4 separate regions of the Homo sapiens genome follow, and regions 1, 3 and 4 are each reported to be linked to region 2. Evidence: microRNA targets listed by miRTarBase, many of them from high-throughput screens and not tested one by one. Region 2 holds a microRNA gene; each other region holds the end of a gene's coding sequence.

The links. Region 2 holds the annotated microRNA hsa-miR-181c-5p (AACAUUCAACCUGUCGGUGAGU, at 2,217-2,238, shown strand). A microRNA usually pairs through its seed, bases 2 to 8, with sites in the 3' UTR of a target mRNA and lowers its output. Matches are read on the target gene's strand: a 7mer-m8 pairs with bases 2 to 8, a 7mer-A1 pairs with bases 2 to 7 and ends in A, and an 8mer does both.
Region 1: miRTarBase lists HECW2 as a target of hsa-miR-181c-5p. Seed matches in the 3' UTR shown: 8mer at 1,463-1,470.
Region 3: miRTarBase lists ISCA1 as a target of hsa-miR-181c-5p. The part of its 3' UTR that is shown has no 7-base or 8-base seed match.
Region 4: miRTarBase lists NMT2 as a target of hsa-miR-181c-5p. Seed matches in the 3' UTR shown: 7mer-m8 at 2,341-2,347.

Annotation. Positions count from the first base shown.
Region 1 is chr2:196,197,768-196,201,767 of GRCh38, reverse strand. It overlaps HECW2 (HECT, C2 and WW domain containing E3 ubiquitin protein ligase 2), which reads left to right. Exons shown (of 29, transcript NM_001348768.2): 29 at 380-4,000. The coding sequence ends at 491. Among named protein-coding and RNA genes, the nearest start is that of STK17B, 28 kb to the right of the region's middle.
Region 2 is chr19:13,872,509-13,877,040 of GRCh38, forward strand. It overlaps MIR181C (microRNA 181c), which reads left to right and starts at 2,191; the gene lies at 2,191-2,300. MIR181D (microRNA 181d) reads left to right here and starts at 2,367; the gene lies at 2,367-2,503. It also overlaps a transcript of NANOS3 not described here. RefSeq lists a silencer at 327-466.
Region 3 is chr9:86,262,415-86,266,414 of GRCh38, forward strand. ISCA1 (iron-sulfur cluster assembly 1) reads right to left here. Exons shown (of 4, transcript NM_030940.4): 4 at 2,132-3,777. The coding sequence ends at 3,629. Among named protein-coding and RNA genes, the nearest start is that of C9orf153, 4.8 kb to the left of the region's middle.
Region 4 is chr10:15,105,679-15,109,678 of GRCh38, forward strand. It overlaps NMT2 (N-myristoyltransferase 2), which reads right to left. Exons shown (of 12, transcript NM_004808.3): 12 at 92-3,537. The coding sequence ends at 3,517. Among named protein-coding and RNA genes, the nearest start is that of RPP38, 10 kb to the left of the region's middle.

The DNA.
Region 1 (4,000 bases), not on the chromosome of region 2:
ACTACTTTGCAAGGCCTTATGTCCGTGTATTAAAAAAAAAATCTAGCATCAAAAGAGAAACAAAAACCAAACTTGTCTTTGTAATCCTTAGACCACTCAATAAATGGTCATTTATATGTAATATAGCTTTTAAATGGTGGTGAAATGTAAATAAAATATTTTTTTAAATATCCTCTTTTCCTTAGAGAAATTCAGTTCTGAATTTTTAAGGTCAAAATGTTTTCAAAGATTTTTCAAAAGGAGTGTGAAAATTGGCAACAAATAAATTTGAATGTGAAAGACAGTCATACACACACAGACACACACACACACACACACCACACACATTTTCATTTCACTCGGCCTGTTCTAAACTATGTGCTGTTTCTTGTGTTTTCAGAGCGCATACATGTTTTAACCGTCTGGATCTGCCTCCCTACCCATCCTTTTCCATGCTTTATGAAAAACTGTTGACAGCAGTTGAAGAAACCAGTACTTTTGGACTTGAGTGACCTGGAAGCTGAATGCCCATCTCTGTGGACAGGCAGGTTCAGAAGCTGCCTTCTAGAAGAATGATTGAACATTGGAAGTTTCAAGAGGATGCTTCCTTTAGGATAAAGCTATGTGCTGTTGTTTTCCAGGAACAAGTGCTCTGTCACATTTGGGGACTGGAGATGAGTCCTCTTGGAAGGATTTGGGTGAGCTTGATGCCCAGGGAACAACCCAACCGTCTTTCAATCAACAGTTCTTGACTGCCAAACTTTTTCCATTTGTTATGTTCCAAGACAAAGATGAACCCATACATGATCAGCTCCACGGTAATTTTTAGGGACTCAGGAGAATCTTGAAACTTACCCTTGAACGTGGTTCAAGCCAAACTGGCAGCATTTGGCCCAATCTCCAAATTAGAGCAAGTTAAATAATATAATAAAAGTAAATATATTTCCTGAAAGTACATTCATTTAAGCCCTAAGTTATAACAGAATATTCATTTCTTGCTTATGAGTGCCTGCATGGTGTGCACCATAGGTTTCCGCTTTCATGGGACATGAGTGAAAATGAAACCAAGTCAATATGAGGTACCTTTACAGATTTGCAATAAGATGGTCTGTGACAATGTATATGCAAGTGGTATGTGTGTAATTATGGCTAAAGACAAACCATTATTCAGTGAATTACTAATGACAGATTTTATGCTTTATAATGCATGAAAACAATTTTAAAATAACTAGCAATTAATCACAGCATATCAGGAAAAAGTACACAGTGAGTTCTGTTTATTTTTTGTAGGTTCATTATGTTTATGTTCTTTAAGATGTATATAAGAACCTACCTATCATGCTGTATGTATCACTCATTCCATTTTCATGTTCCATGCATACTCGGGCATCATGCTAATATGTATCCTTTTAAGCACTCTCAAGGAAACAAAAGGGCCTTTTATTTTTATAAAGGTAAAAAAAATTCCCCAAATATTTTGCACTGAATGTACCAAAGGTGAAGGGACATTACAATATGACTAACAGCAACTCCATCACTTGAGAAGTATAATAGAAAATAGCTTCTAAATCAAACTTCCTTCACAGTGCCGTGTCTACCACTACAAGGACTGTGCATCTAAGTAATAATTTTTTAAGATTCACTATATGTGATAGTATGATATGCATTTATTTAAAATGCATTAGACTCTCTTCCATCCATCAAATACTTTACAGGATGGCATTTAATACAGATATTTCGTATTTCCCCCACTGCTTTTTATTTGTACAGCATCATTAAACACTAAGCTCAGTTAAGGAGCCATCAGCAACACTGAAGAGATCAGTAGTAAGAATTCCATTTTCCCTCATCAGTGAAGACACCACAAATTGAAACTCAGAACTATATTTCTAAGCCTGCATTTTCACTGATGCATAATTTTCTTATTAATATTAAGAGACAGTTTTTCTATGGCATCTCCAAAACTGCATGACATCACTAGTCTTACTTCTGCTTAATTTTATGAGAAGGTATTCTTCATTTTAATTGCTTTTGGGATTACTCCACATCTTTGTTTATTTCTTGACTAATCAGATTTTCAATAGAGTGAAGTTAAATTGGGGGTCATAAAAGCATTGGATTGACATATGGTTTGCCAGCCTATGGGTTTACAGGCATTGCCCAAACATTTCTTTGAGATCTATATTTATAAGCAGCCATGGAATTCCTATTATGGGATGTTGGCAATCTTACATTTTATAGAGGTCATATGCATAGTTTTCATAGGTGTTTTGTAAGAACTGATTGCTCTCCTGTGAGTTAAGCTATGTTTACTACTGGGACCCTCAAGAGGAATACCACTTATGTTACACTCCTGCACTAAAGGCACGTACTGCAGTGTGAAGAAATGTTCTGAAAAAGGGTTATAGAAATCTGGAAATAAGAAAGGAAGAGCTCTCTGTATTCTATAATTGGAAGAGAAAAAAAGAAAAACTTTTAACTGGAAATGTTAGTTTGTACTTATTGATCATGAATACAAGTATATATTTAATTTTGCAAACTTTTCACTTGTTTGTATTCTTTTCATTATAAGGAAAAGTAGTATAACACACTTTTTTTTAAGTCACATATTTGATGGTATACAAGATGTTTCAGGGCTGGCATTCTCCAAGCAGCAGATAAAGGTTGCATTTCTTTCAAAAATACATTCAAAGACCATGTTATCCTTCATTTTGGTTTGAGACATTTAGTTATGGTATTTCATATTATTAGGTAAAAGATATTTGAAATAAAATGTATCTCTTTAATTATTTCTAACAAATATATTTCTTTATTAAGGCATCCAACTTTTTCCCAAATAACAGTACACTTTAATGTATGTAGACATTCTTAATTAGTATAATCATCTAGTTGATACTGTTCTCAGATTGGGAATTATCAAAGATGTACTTATCATATCAGAACACCATGCTAACTTATCTATTATTCTTTCTTAGTAAAACAAAACAGCCAGTAATAACTATATAAAATATTAAATAACATTTCCACAGAATAAATTAGACTTTCATGTACTCTACAATTAGAAATATCCATAAATATTTTCTTCTGGACTGTGAACCCAGATAACTAGGCTTTCTGGTCTTATTTTAAGTGATGCTCTTTATACTATAGAAGACACTCTTAATACATCATATATGTATGCAGAACATCTCTTAGATGAGAGAACAAGCACATCATTGGCATTCCCTCTGTGCCAGTTTGATGTTTGTTTGACGATGGAGCTACAAGAGTCTAAATCTGCCTTTGAAAAGCTCAGCTCACAGTGTAGTAGAGTAGACTCCAAGGTTCAAAAAAGTGTTTTTAATAAAATTTGGTAAGTTCTACAATCAAGGAATGAAGAGAGAAGAGAACAGCTTTTTCCATCTGGGAGATTCAATAATGGCTTCATATATAGATGATAGTGTGGCTAAAAAAAATTACATCAATGCTGTTTCTATTGGGAAGCAATGGCAAGTAATAGTATGTCAATACTGGTCAAGTGTTGAAGCCAGGATGCACTTACACAACGAGAGTGTAAAGTGTGTAGGGAGCTGATCTGTGAAGGAGCAACTCAAAGATTTTGAAATTATCAGTGAAATGCCAAAACAGGGAAAGTTTCCCTGTTTCCCTTCATCTATTCTACAATGCACCATTGGTTTTCAGTGTGAAAAATCCCAATCCCTGAGCCCAAACCACTTCTGGGGTCAAAACATTTTTCTTGTGCACAAAATGAATGGATCTTGGTCAAAGAAGTATGGTCACAATTTTCTAGCATATATTGCGTTTATAATTTAGCAGAAATTCTGCAATAAATAAAGGAAAATCTGTTTTACCTGTGCAACAATCAGAAATGGTAAAAATGCATTCAAGTGTTTGAAAGAAATGGTAGAATATGCTTGCATAGTGCTTTATAGTTTCAAAGTGCTGTCAGGTACATCGTCCGTTTAGCTCCTCACGCACTTTGTAGGGTACAAGCATCATGTTCCATCTGGGTTGTGGCTGA
Region 2 (4,532 bases):
GCCACTTACCTTCCCAGTCCACAAAATGGGTATATCCTGCTCACAGCGTGATGAATGTAGCGTTATCATCAGTAATGTAATTATTAACACCTGTGCTCCCAACTCACTCTCCTTCCCAAGTCCTAGGCGTTCTCCTCCTTAGAATGATGATCCACAAGGCAGGGGACCGGCCACCTCCCTCGGAAGGGCCTGGACACCTGGGGTGGAGGTGGCGGATAAAGAGAAGCCGATCAGGCCCCCCCACTCCACAGCCTGAATGGGAGGATCTGCTGGACGTGGCGGATGAGCTGCGAGAGAGGGCGCCCCACTCCAGCTCCAGACAGAGGGGTGGGAACGTGACCCCGACCCGGGGCGGGTGAGAGGGCGGGCTCTGGGGAAAGGGCTCTAGAAGGTGCCGGGAGGCGGGAGGGGGGCTTCGGGAGGGCGAGTTAGCCGGGATCGGGCTTGAGGGGCCCTACGAAATTCGGTTTGGGGGCGTGCCCGGTCGGGGCGGACCTTAGTGGGGGGTTGGGCTTCGTGGGGGCAGGACGCAGTCCCGGGGCGTCTATAGAGCAGGCTTTTGTGGAGGGCTCTAAGGGGGCGGGCCCTAAGGGAGCTGGGCTCTTTGAGGACTGGCTTAGGGGTTTGGCGGTGGGCTCCGTGGGAGTCTATATGGGCGGGTTTTAGAGGGAGTGTGTTCTGGGGAACAGGTCAAAAGCGACGGGGCTCTAAGGGGCAGGGCCTGGGCTGGGGCCTTGGCTGGTGGCTCCAGACTGTGGGTGGGGCTCTCGGGGGCGGGGCTCTCGGGGGCGCGTCCTCGGGGGCTCGGCCGGGTTCCGTTGCCACCACCGTGAGGGGTGTGGTGGGGGGGTGGTTCACGCAGCTCGGCACACTTGGGGGTCCCTCATCTACCTTGGGGTTATGCCAGGCGGTTATTTTGGGCCTCAGTATTCCCCTCGGTGAAATGCCAGGGGCCAGGAAATTACTTATTTTTTTGCGACGACGGGGTCTCGTCCTGTGACCCAGGCTGGAATACAGTGGCGCGATCACGGCTCACTGCAGCCTCGAGCCTCGAACTCTTGGGGTCCAAGCGATCCTCCCATCTCAGCCTCCTAAGTAGCTAAGACTACAGGCTCACTACACCACACCCAGCTAATTTTTTTGTAGGGACAGGTATCTCGCTATGTTGCTCAGGTTGGTCTCCATCTCCTGGGCTCAAAAGATCCTCCCGCCTCAGCCTCCCAAAATACTGAATTACAGGCCTGAGCCGCAGCACCCGGCCATGCCGGGTGCACCTTCCTAGGCCGTCCGCAGACCCAGGTCAGGGGCGAAGGCGCGCTCGCCCATCCCTGGTCGTCACTGCTTGGCTTGCGGGGGGTGGGAGATAGGGGTGCGTACCTGTAGGCCTGGGGGCACCCGGGGCGGGGGGGTGGTCGCCGAACTCTGTGCGATCACTGGAGGAAGGGACTGGGGGTCATTTGAGGGATGAGGAAATGGAGAGGGGGCGCCGCAGCCGGTTTTGAGGCCCAAGGGGCAGCCCCCACGTGGCTGCGCGGACTCCCTCCGGAAGTGCCCGAGTTCAGATGCTGTGTGACCGCGCACGCGGGGCGAGCGGCGCCCTCTCTGAACCTCCTGCCTCTCCCCTGTCTAGTGGGGCCCCAGTGCACTTGTAAAGTGGAGAGACCTGACGACCCCCCACCCCCAAGCGCTCCACTCACGCTGTTGTGATTCCTAAACCATCGTGCCCGGAACTCAGTGAAGCTCCCAGAACGTATTACATTGTATTAAAATGGCTTGTTTATCTCCACGTTGCATCAATGCCCTCGGGGCCAGGATCCTCCGTTGCCAGACTTCCCGGGAACACTTGGAATGCCTCCTCCACCTCGGACTAGCAGTGGCCTTTGGCCTCAGTCTCCCCAGTTGACAAAGGGGGGTAATCTGCACCTCCAGGATCACTTTGTGAATTACTTAAGGAGCGGGCTTGAGGCCAGCACTCCCCTGCACTGCTACATCTCCATCCCCATAGCAAAGGCTACATTTTATTTACTAGCATTTATATTTGCCTTGTGTTTTTCCCAGATCTAGGTGCAAACAGCACCTGAAAAGCGTTTGTTTATTTCATGAGAGAAAAGGGGTTCCTTACTCTCTCCTCCTCTCCCTCTTCATGCTCTCTGGTTCCCTGCCACCTACCCCACCCCCGACTCCAGGTCCCGGAAAATTTGCCAAGGGTTTGGGGGAACATTCAACCTGTCGGTGAGTTTGGGCAGCTCAGGCAAACCATCGACCGTTGAGTGGACCCTGAGGCCTGGAATTGCCATCCTCCTGCCGGTGACTCTGACCTTCCAGATCTAGGGGGGCCTGGGGAGCCCCCAATCCAGCCTGGGCACGTCCCCTCCCCTAGGCCACAGCCGAGGTCACAATCAACATTCATTGTTGTCGGTGGGTTGTGAGGACTGAGGCCAGACCCACCGGGGGATGAATGTCACTGTGGCTGGGCCAGACACGGCTTAAGGGGAATGGGGACTGGGGACAGGACCCCCCACCGCCACAGTCACTCAGCCTGTTTTTTGCCCTGACCCCAACCACTCCTCTTTGGAGAGGAGAGCTGGTGTCTGGAATCTGGATGGGCTCTGGCTGGATTTGGGACTAAATATTAGAGGGTTGGGGGTAAACAGGCTGGGGCAGGGCAGCTAAAATCCCCTTTTTTTTTTTTTTTTAAGACAGAGTCTCACTCTGTTGCCTAGGCTGGAGTGCAGTGGCCCAATCTCAGCTCACTGCAACCTCTGCCTCCAGGGTTTGAGTGATTCTCTGGCCTCAGCCTCCCAAGTAGCTGGGATTACAGGCATCTGCCACCACAGTGGGCTAATTTTTGTATTTTTAGTAGAGACGAGATTTCACTGTGTTGGCCAGGCTGGTCTCAAACTCCTGACCTCAAGTAATCCTCCCCCCTCGGCCTCCCAAAGTGCTGGGATTACAGGCATGAGCCACTTTGCCTGGCCTAAAACCCCTTTCTGAAATGTGGGTGGTAAGTTCTGCTCCGTGGAGTGCTCCATAGTTTTGTTTTTTAAATTAGAGACAGGATCTCGCTCTTGTCACCCAGGCTGGAGTGCAATGGTGTGACCTTAGCTCACTGCAGCCTCTAATAACTGGAGTCAAGCGTTGATCCTCCCGCCTCAGCCTCCCCAGTAGCCGGAACCACGGGCACGCACCACCACACCTAGCTTATTTCGAAAAAGTGTTTTTGTAGGAACAGGGTCTCAAAACGTTGCCCAGGCTGGTCTCCAACTCCTAGGTTCAAGCAATCCTCCTCGGCCTCTCAAAATGAGCCACAGTGCCTGGCCAATAAAAGTTTCTTAAATGAATGGATGGGTGGATGAGCTGTGTAAGCGGCACAGCGTCTCTCCTCTGTGTCCAAGTCCTGAGCACACCCTCCCCTCCTGGGACTGAGCTGAGATCTCATCTCGGGGAGGACACTGAAGACCTGTAGGTACTAGGGGTCCCCTCCTAACAGCCCAACTTGCTATCCCCCACCTCCCAACTCCAGAGGGTTCTTTCTCACCCCTCTGCAGCCCCCGCCAGGAAAGGGCTCCCTCCCCAGCACCTAGCCTCAGGGGGCCCCAGTAACTAGAAGAAGGAGGCAGATGTGGTGCTTTTTGTTGTTGTTGTTTTGAGACAGAGTCTTACTCTGTTTCCCAGGCTGGAGTGCAGTGGCTTGATCTTGGCTCACCGCAACCTCTGCCTCCTGGGTTCAAGCAATTCTTCTGCCTCAGCCTCCTGAGTAGCTGGGATCACAGGCACCCGCCACCATGCCCAGCTAATTTTGTGTGTGTGTGTGTGTGTGTGTGTATTTTTAGTAGAGACAGGGTTTCACCATGTTAGCCAGGCTGGTCTCGAACTCTTGACCTCAGGTGATCCGCCTGTCTTGGCCTCCCAAACTGTTGGGATGACAGGCATGAGCCACCACTCCCTGGCCTGGTGCATGTCTTTATAAATAACTGGATGGGCAGGTGGCTTCACACCTCAGTTTGCTCATCCATTCAATGGGGGTTCCACTAAGACAACCGATGTGAAAACTCTTGGAGGGAGACCAGAGCTGGGGGCCGGGGGGCATGATCCTTCCCCCCTACCCCCGCAACCAGCCCATGAGCCTGGGACTACCACACTCCTTTCAGAGACAGCTGGAGCATCAGCAACCTCCCGCCTGGACACACACACACACAAAGAACCCAGGGGCACCTGGCCACTCCCCCGCCCAGGGGAAGGAAGAAAAAGTTATAAAGAAGTTACTAAGTTAACTTCTTTAAGTTACTGGTAACTGCTAGTCTTTGGGGGTGGGGTTTCCAACCCATTCTCCCCATCCTCCAGTGGGGCTGGAGGGCTAAGGACTCCTACAAGGAGGGGAGGCAGGGTAGCCCCCCAATTCCCTGGAGGTGTGTACGGGGGGCTGTGGTGCACCTCGCAGGATGCCCCCCCACACACCCTGTGTCCTGTAGTCCCCCGGCACAGCCAGAGGCCATACAGCCCTTTAGGAGGAGTATTAGTGGGGCACCAGG
Region 3 (4,000 bases), not on the chromosome of region 2:
GATGCTGTGTCTGGCCCATGCCACGTCTGCTCTAAGGCTCAAATGAGACACTGATGTTGCTTACAGCTCAGCTTAGCACAGGCTTTTCCATTTCCTGATTTCTCAGGTATCAAAACATGACAAGAAAGGCCATTTTTTTTTTGAGGTATTTCCTGCTGAGTGAAACCTAGGAAATACTGGAAATCTTAGGGACATCTGATCTTGTAGGGATTGTTCCCAACCCTTTCCTGTTTGAGAAAAAAAAAATCATTCTGGTGGGTCCGGTGACAGAGGGCTGGGAGGCGCCCTGCAACAATGAAGCACAGCAGGCCTCTGTCCTCATGGCCTGATTCATTCAATTTAGCATCCTGATGTGGAAGAGTGGGCTTATAACTGATCATGAAAAGCCTGAAGTCTGCTGCTAAGCGACAGATCTGCTGGCCTACACATCACCCAGGGGCACTACCAAATCGCCTAACACAATGACCAGTGTTTGTGAGTAGAATGTGGATGAATGTGGTGCAACAGACAGAACCTTCCTGGTGAGGGCTAAGGCTTGCATGACATGGTGTGACATGGCCGTAGGATGGAGCCATTTTGCAAAAATAATTCTGACCTGCCCGATGCTAAACGAACACTGAAGAAGCAATTGCGTTCCTGTCTCCAAGATCCTTTCAATATTGTACAAGAGACAAGAACCAAAACCAATGAACAGTACAAGTACTGCCTGTACAAATAGAAATGAGTCACAGAACACTGGCTGATGAGGTTGGGCTACGGATAGAGTACCATCCTTTCTGCCTCCTAAGCCTTTCTCTCACGGGTCCCTGCTCAGGTCCTATTATAGCGGGCTTTGCAGTAGCTTCTTCCTGTCCTCATCAGCCAGCCTAGTCCAGGCCATGGAAACACTTCCAAATGCAATTTTCTAATGAGTGCCCCTAAACACTTTCAGTGGCCCCAAGGCCTACAGAACTTGCAGAAAGCCCAAACGCCCCAGGCATCTACCTTGCCCTCCAGCCTTACTGCTCCTCTCCGGGCCTCATTCTCCGGAGTGCTTAGCTTCACTGTGTTTTTATTATTACTTTTTATTATACTTTAAGTTCTAGGGTACATGTGCACAACGTGCAGGTTTGTTACTTATGTATACATGTGCCGTGTTGGTGTGCTGCACCCATTAACTCGTCATTTACATTAGGTATATCTCCTAATGCTATCCCTCCCCCACGACAGGCCCTGGTGTGTGATGTTCCCTGCCCTGTGTCCAAGTGTTCTCATTGTTCAATTCCCACCTATGAGTGAGAACACGCCCTCTGTGTTTTTTCAACCCTCTTTAGTACTGTTCACTGTCTTCCCTCTTCCCCAAATCTCTTTCAACTAGGCGCAGGGGTCATAACCTGTAGGCTACCTTTTTAGAAGCGCACTCCGTTGGTTCTATCAGGACACGCAGTATGGCCTAACAGCTGGGAGCACAGCATCTGGAGCCATAGACACAGGGTACGATTCTGACTTGGCCACCTTAGCTATTTTATTTAAGCTGTGTTTTGGTTTATCTATGAAAAAGACAGTAGTCAGACCTGCATTCTCGATTGCTGAGATGATGTTTATTAGAACACTTCCTGGCATGCAGTGAGCATGCCATCACCACCAGCTGCTCACAACACTTACCATGGTGATCGATGCTCTTCGCTGGTGTCTCATTTGCCGACTTGAAGCTCTCTGAGGTTGGGACTGTCTTTGATGACCTGTGAAAGCTCAGGGCTAGTGGAGAGTCAGTGCTCACTACTGTGCCTGAGTGAACAGCTGAGAACCTTCTTGGAGGAGGTTCACATAAAAGCTCAGATGACAGAGGGAAAAGCACTCCAGGTAGTGATAATGCTCTCGTCCTAAGGACATGAGGAACCTGCTTGGGGGATGGATGACCCTCATGGGGAACAAGGAGGAAAAAGAGGCTAGCAAAGCCAGGGAGATGAGAGACACCTGAGATGGTCTCTCCAGGGCTGTGTGGAGAATCAGCAGCTAGGACTCTGGACGAAACAGTGTCAGGTAGGGAGGACGCCTGGTGACAGGCAGCCTAGGCAAAAAAGACAGTCATTTTTTTATTGGCTTTAGCAGCTGCTGTCCCAAACCCTCTCCCCTCAATAATAAAAGGCAATTTTATGATCACAAAGAGGCCACATTTTTTTTAATTGACAACTCAATCTCTACATACATACAGTGTTGCACGAATTATAAGTGGATCAACAATTATATTATTGATACAAACTCATGAGCATTTACATAAAACTACCGCTCTAGGTTTTGGTGTGTTTTGTGTCAGCTACTTTAGTGAATAAACGAAACATAAAGGAACTCAGCTACTTGAATTCATGAGAATCAGCTTTCAAAAAAAGCATATATATCATCTCATAGAATACTTATGTCAAACCCAGGAAAATCAGTAACTAAGTGACAAAAGGAACACTTTTAAAGAAAAGTTGGTGATAAATATGTTAGGCTAAAATACTAAGAACTTTAGCAACTGGACCGAGGAACCAGAAAATGTATGCACACTGGGAATTTTAACAAAAGATTACACATTCTCCTGTACAGTGAGGACCACATTCCAAAAGCATAATTCTGGGTTGCTACAATGTCATCTCTGCTACAAACCATTGTTTCAAAGGTGAAAGAAACAAGATGGTAATTGACATAAAAAGGTTTTAAAATTCTTCCCACTCAAAATAAAATAAAAATAATATAATCTCTATCAAATTATAAAGAAATTCTATCAAAATGTTGACCACATAAAGAAGTCAGACCATTTGCCTTCGCTGACTGCCTCAGAGGGCAGAGCATGTGTCACCTACAAGGGGAGAGGGGGGTAGAGTCCCTACTCTCCCCCGGCCTGTGGTGTCAGGGTGGACAGGAGCCCTTTGGCTTCCCTGGGGTTTTGCTTCCTCACATAGGGAATTGATGGAGGTGGGCTAGATGGCTTTAAGAGACTTCTCAACTAAAAGAATCAAAGTCAGCTTGAGAGCCCATCTCTGAACAGACATATAGGGTGGCAAAAGAAATGGATTAAAAAAAGGCGGATGACGTCTTTCTCACCTTTTGATACCATCACTCAGAACTAATCTGTACTATAGTTGAAGAAAATCTTTGCCTGGTACTATTAAAGAGTATGCAGTGAGGCAGCTGACAATGAAATTTTTCATAAAAATGTATAAAAAGGCTATGTTAAGTTTGGGTGGAAAAAACAATGCACCACCATATTACTACCAGCAGTCACGATGTCCTGTCTCAGATTTTAGGAGTCACCGATCTGGTTGGGAGAAATGCTGAGGGATGATCAAGCCATCAATAGCGATCTAAGGAGTGCACACAGTTCAGGAAATGGATAAACAGGTGCCCAGGAAGGCAACTTTAATGAAACTGGTTCTAAAACAAAGGATACAAGAGACCTAAATGATCCAAAAAGAGTGATGGCTTCTCATTTTCTGTCCCCTATAGAGAATATAAATATCATTTCTTCTGGAATCCAACACACTGGATTCATTTTCAAGATGTATCACTTTATTTTCCAGCACGTGACAGTCACATGATTTCTGCAGTGAGCCCCAAAGCTTCCACGAGCTTTCCTGGAACCTACGGCCAGAAGAGTCCTGAGATTTCAAATATTAAAGCTTTCTCCACAGCCACAAGTCCCTTTGATGTTTGGGTTATTGAACACAAACTCACTGGATAATTTGTCTTCAACATAGTCCATTTCTGTTCCTAAAAGTGTTAGCTGTGCTTTCTTTTCGATGAATACTCTGACTCCTTGGAGAAAAGAAAACATGTGTCATGGAAAGCCTGCAGCCTTATGGAACTTGCTGATTCAAAGCACAAGTGAACTTGAAATAGTGACTATCAATGAAAGTCAAACAAGAAGCCTTGAACATTTTAAATTATTTCCTTAAGGAATTAAGCATTCAGTTTCCTGTCTGCCCCTTCTTTCCCACACATGAATTTATGTCACAATCACATTAGGGGAGAATTTTAT
Region 4 (4,000 bases), not on the chromosome of region 2:
AGAAGAAAAAAAGATACCTTATTGAATAGAACATTTTCATTATAGACAAAGTACAGTACAATGCAGTTTTAAATCTACAAGAAACTATCCATTGCATTTCAATTTAGTTTTAATAGCTACTTCATAAGCAAGCAGTTTAATTCTCGAAAATGTTAATTAGTAATCTGCTTCAATTATGGAGGCAAATGTAGTTATTATTCTATTTAAAAGTGGTTAATAATTTGATAACAAATTATGTAAATGACTCTTTAAAGGAGCAGTGTAACTGTCACCGTGAGGTAAGCTCATGACAAAGTTTCCAACTGGCAATGCTGCAGTTATTTATTTTACTTTCGAGATAGAGTCTCACTCTGTTGCCCAGGCTGGAGTGCAGTGGTGTGATCCCGGCTCACTGCAACCCCGCCTCCTGGGTTCAAGCGATTCTCCTGCCTCAGCCTCCTGAATAGCTGGGATTACAGGTGCACACCCCCATGTCCGGCTAGTTTTTGTAATTTTAGTAGAGATAGGGCTTCACCATGTTGGCCAGGCTGGTCTCAAGACTCCTGACCTCAAGTGATCTGCTCACCTTGGCCTCCCAAAGTGCAGGGATTACAGGTGTGAGCCACCGTGCCTGGCTGATTCTGCAATTATTTGAAAACCTACTTTGTATAGACTTTGTGGCATGAAAATGAGTGGGAAGTAAAGTCCTAAATTAGAGCCTTGACTCCAGGTTAAGTCAAAATCTCATTTACTTAATGCTGGTATCTCAAACCCTGTTCCAGTGAATGAGGACTGTTTTGTTTCTTGAAGCCTTTCTCCTGTTAAGAAAGAACGCTAATGCAATTAGGGTGGAACCATCTGAAATTCCAAGTCTTCCATTATCTCCAAGAGAGGTCCTATATTATGTACTACTGTGGGGCCCAGTCGCCCTCTGGTGGTAGTCTCAGGGATGTCACAGCTGTGGGTTGGTCTTTAGAATCACGGCAACCTATAGAAAGGAGAGTTCCAACTCCTTCGTAGTGACCAAGGTCAACAAACTTTCTGTAAAAGACCAGAGAGTGAATATCTTAGGCTTTGCAGGCCACACAATCTGTCACAACAACTCAACTCAGCTTTGTAGTGTGAAGCAGCCATAGGCAATATGTAAATGAAAGTGGCTGTGGCCAAGAGTGGTGGCTCATGTCTATAATCCCAGTACTTTGGGAGGCCAAGGCAGAAGGATCACTTGAGGCCAGGAGTTAAAGACCAGCACGGGAAACATAGCAAGACCTTGTCTCTACAAAAAATGAAAAACTTAGCCAGGCGTGGTGGTATGCACGCCCAGCTAGTTCTTTTTCTTCAAAAAGACGCTGAAGCAGGAGGATCATTTTAACCCAGGAGTTTGGGGCTGCAGTGAGCTGTTGACTGTGCCACTGTATTCTAGCCTGGACAATAGAGTGAGACCCTGTCCTAAAAAAAAAAAAAAAAAAAGTATGGCTATGTTCCAATAAAACCTTATTGAGGGACACCGGAATTTGAATTTTGTGTAATTTGCACATGTCACAAAATGATGTCATTTTTTGGCTTTTTCTCCTCAACCATTCCAGAAAATAAAAACATTCTTAGCCTGTGGGCTACACAAAAATAAGCAATGGGCTGGATTTAGCCCACAGGCCATAGTTTGGTGGCCCCTGCCTGGGATAAGATATGATTGGTTTCACTGGACTCATAACTTGAAGGAAATGCCATCATGTCTAAAACAATTAACTTCTGCACTGAACTTCCTAGGCACTGGCCCAGTAAAAGCAGGGAAAAGTATCTACTTTTGTTTTTTGAGACGGAGTCTTGCACTGTCACCCAGGCTGGAGTGCAGTGGCACGATCTTGGCTCACTGCAACTTCCGCCTCCTGGGTTCAAGTGATTCTCCTGCCTCAGCCTCCTAGCAGCTGGGATTACAGGCACCCGCCACCACACCCAGCTAGTTCTTTTTGAATTTTTAGTAGAGATGGGGTTTCACCATGTTGGCCAGGCTGGTCTCGAACCCCTGACCTCAAATGTTTCGCCCGCCTTGGCCTCCCAAAGTGCTGGGATTACAGGCGTGAGCCACCACACCCAGCCAAGGCATCTACTTTGTGGTATCTGAGTTGAGGCCAGGCTACGTGGCCTCGGTTAGCATCTTATTTTTCCCGCAGATTATTGGCAATATAAACACACATCTGTAAGCCATGAAAGTTTTTCAAATTCTAGATTAAAAACACCATCAGTAACAAAATTATGAATACTTATTTACAAATAAGACATTTTCCATTAGCATGACACATGACAGTTTTCATGATAAAATCAGCATAGAGGAGTATGTGCAATTTTGCATAAGTAATAAAAACATTCAAACTATCAATGCCCTGATAGCACGAATAAGTTCCACCAGGCATCTCTTTTGACTTTACAGTTTTTTATTTCCTTTTCTTCATATATCCTTGATGTTGCTGAGAAGAAACTGAACTTTGCACAACAGCAGAAAAGTCTAGTTAGTCGCGGGTACAGGCTCTTTCTTTTTTTTTTTTTTTGAGACGGAGTCTCACGCTCTGTCACCCAGGCTGGAGTGCAGTGGCTCGATCTCGGCTCACTGCAACCTCACCTCTCAGGTTCAAGCGATTCTCCTGCCTCAGCCTCCCAAGCAGCTGGGACTACAGGCACACGCCACCACGCCCGGCTAATTTTTGTATTTTTAGTAGAGATGGGGTTTCACTATGTTGGCCAGAATGGTCTCGATCTCCTGACCTCATGATCTGCCCACCTTGGCCTCCCAAAGTGCTGGGATTACAGGCGTGAGCCACCACGCCCGGCCTCAGGCTCTTTCAGAGAGCACAGTGAGTGCTTGCACAAAACTCTGCTTTTGAAGCAATCCACTGACCTGGTAAAGATCAAAGTACAAACTTGCATGTTTATTGATTCGGCAACTCTGCTTATGGAGAAATACATGTACTAGTCACCAGTACATTTTAATATTGCTCTGCACTTAAACAACCACCACCTGTCACTGAGCTACAGAAGTGTTGATTCCATAAATGTTCCCAGTGATACCATGTAAGGTGATACCAGTAAAAAAAATTTCCAAATGGATCTTTTGTTCTGTTACATGGACAAATGTACCATCACTTAAGAAACAGAAATGCAGCAATTTCTCTCCACACAATAGCAAAGATTTTCTTACATGACTCTGTAACTTCTACTTAGTCCATAGAAAAACAGTCCCTTTTCTAAGGGTGAAAAAATACCTCTTCAAGAGACAGGCAAAAATTTGAAAATTACAAGAATGTGCTCTTTGTAGCCTTTCATCCCTCCCACAAATAGGTCAACAGTAAAAAAAGGATGAAGTTTAACATTCTAGCTAGAAACGTACAAATGTCACATGTGGACTTTTGTCATCTTTTCTGATTATCGACTACTTCAATTTCACTTGAGTTGTGCTTTTATTCTTCTTTGGAATGGCAGTTCCAGAAATCATTAAATATTAACAAATGATGATGTCAGAGTTCTAGAAATAAAAATATCCATCTATTGTAGTACTAGTCCAACCTGAAGGGAGGGAAGAAATGGAATAGTAAGAAAAATTAGATTGCAATGTAGTACAATAGATCTGTCTTTCTAAAAGCTGTCTTAAGGCTCAGCTCACACCTGTAATCCCGGCACTTTGGGAGGCCAAGGCAGGCGGATCACCTGAGGTCAGGAGTTTGAGACCAGCCTGGCCAACATGGTCAAACCCCATCTCTACTAAAAATGAAAAAATTAGCCAGGCATGGTGGTGGATGTAATCCCAGCTACTCGGGAGGCTGAGGCAGGAGAATCACTTGAACCTGGGAGGCGGAGGTTGCAGTGAGCTGAGATCATGCCATTGCACTCCAGCCTGGGGGACAGAGCGAGACTTCATCTCAAAAAAATAAATAAATAAATAAATAAAATGAACAAAAATAAAATAAAGCTGTCTTAAGTCTAAGTGAAGCAAGTATGAAATTGTCTAGGTACATTTGTTGAGTTTACA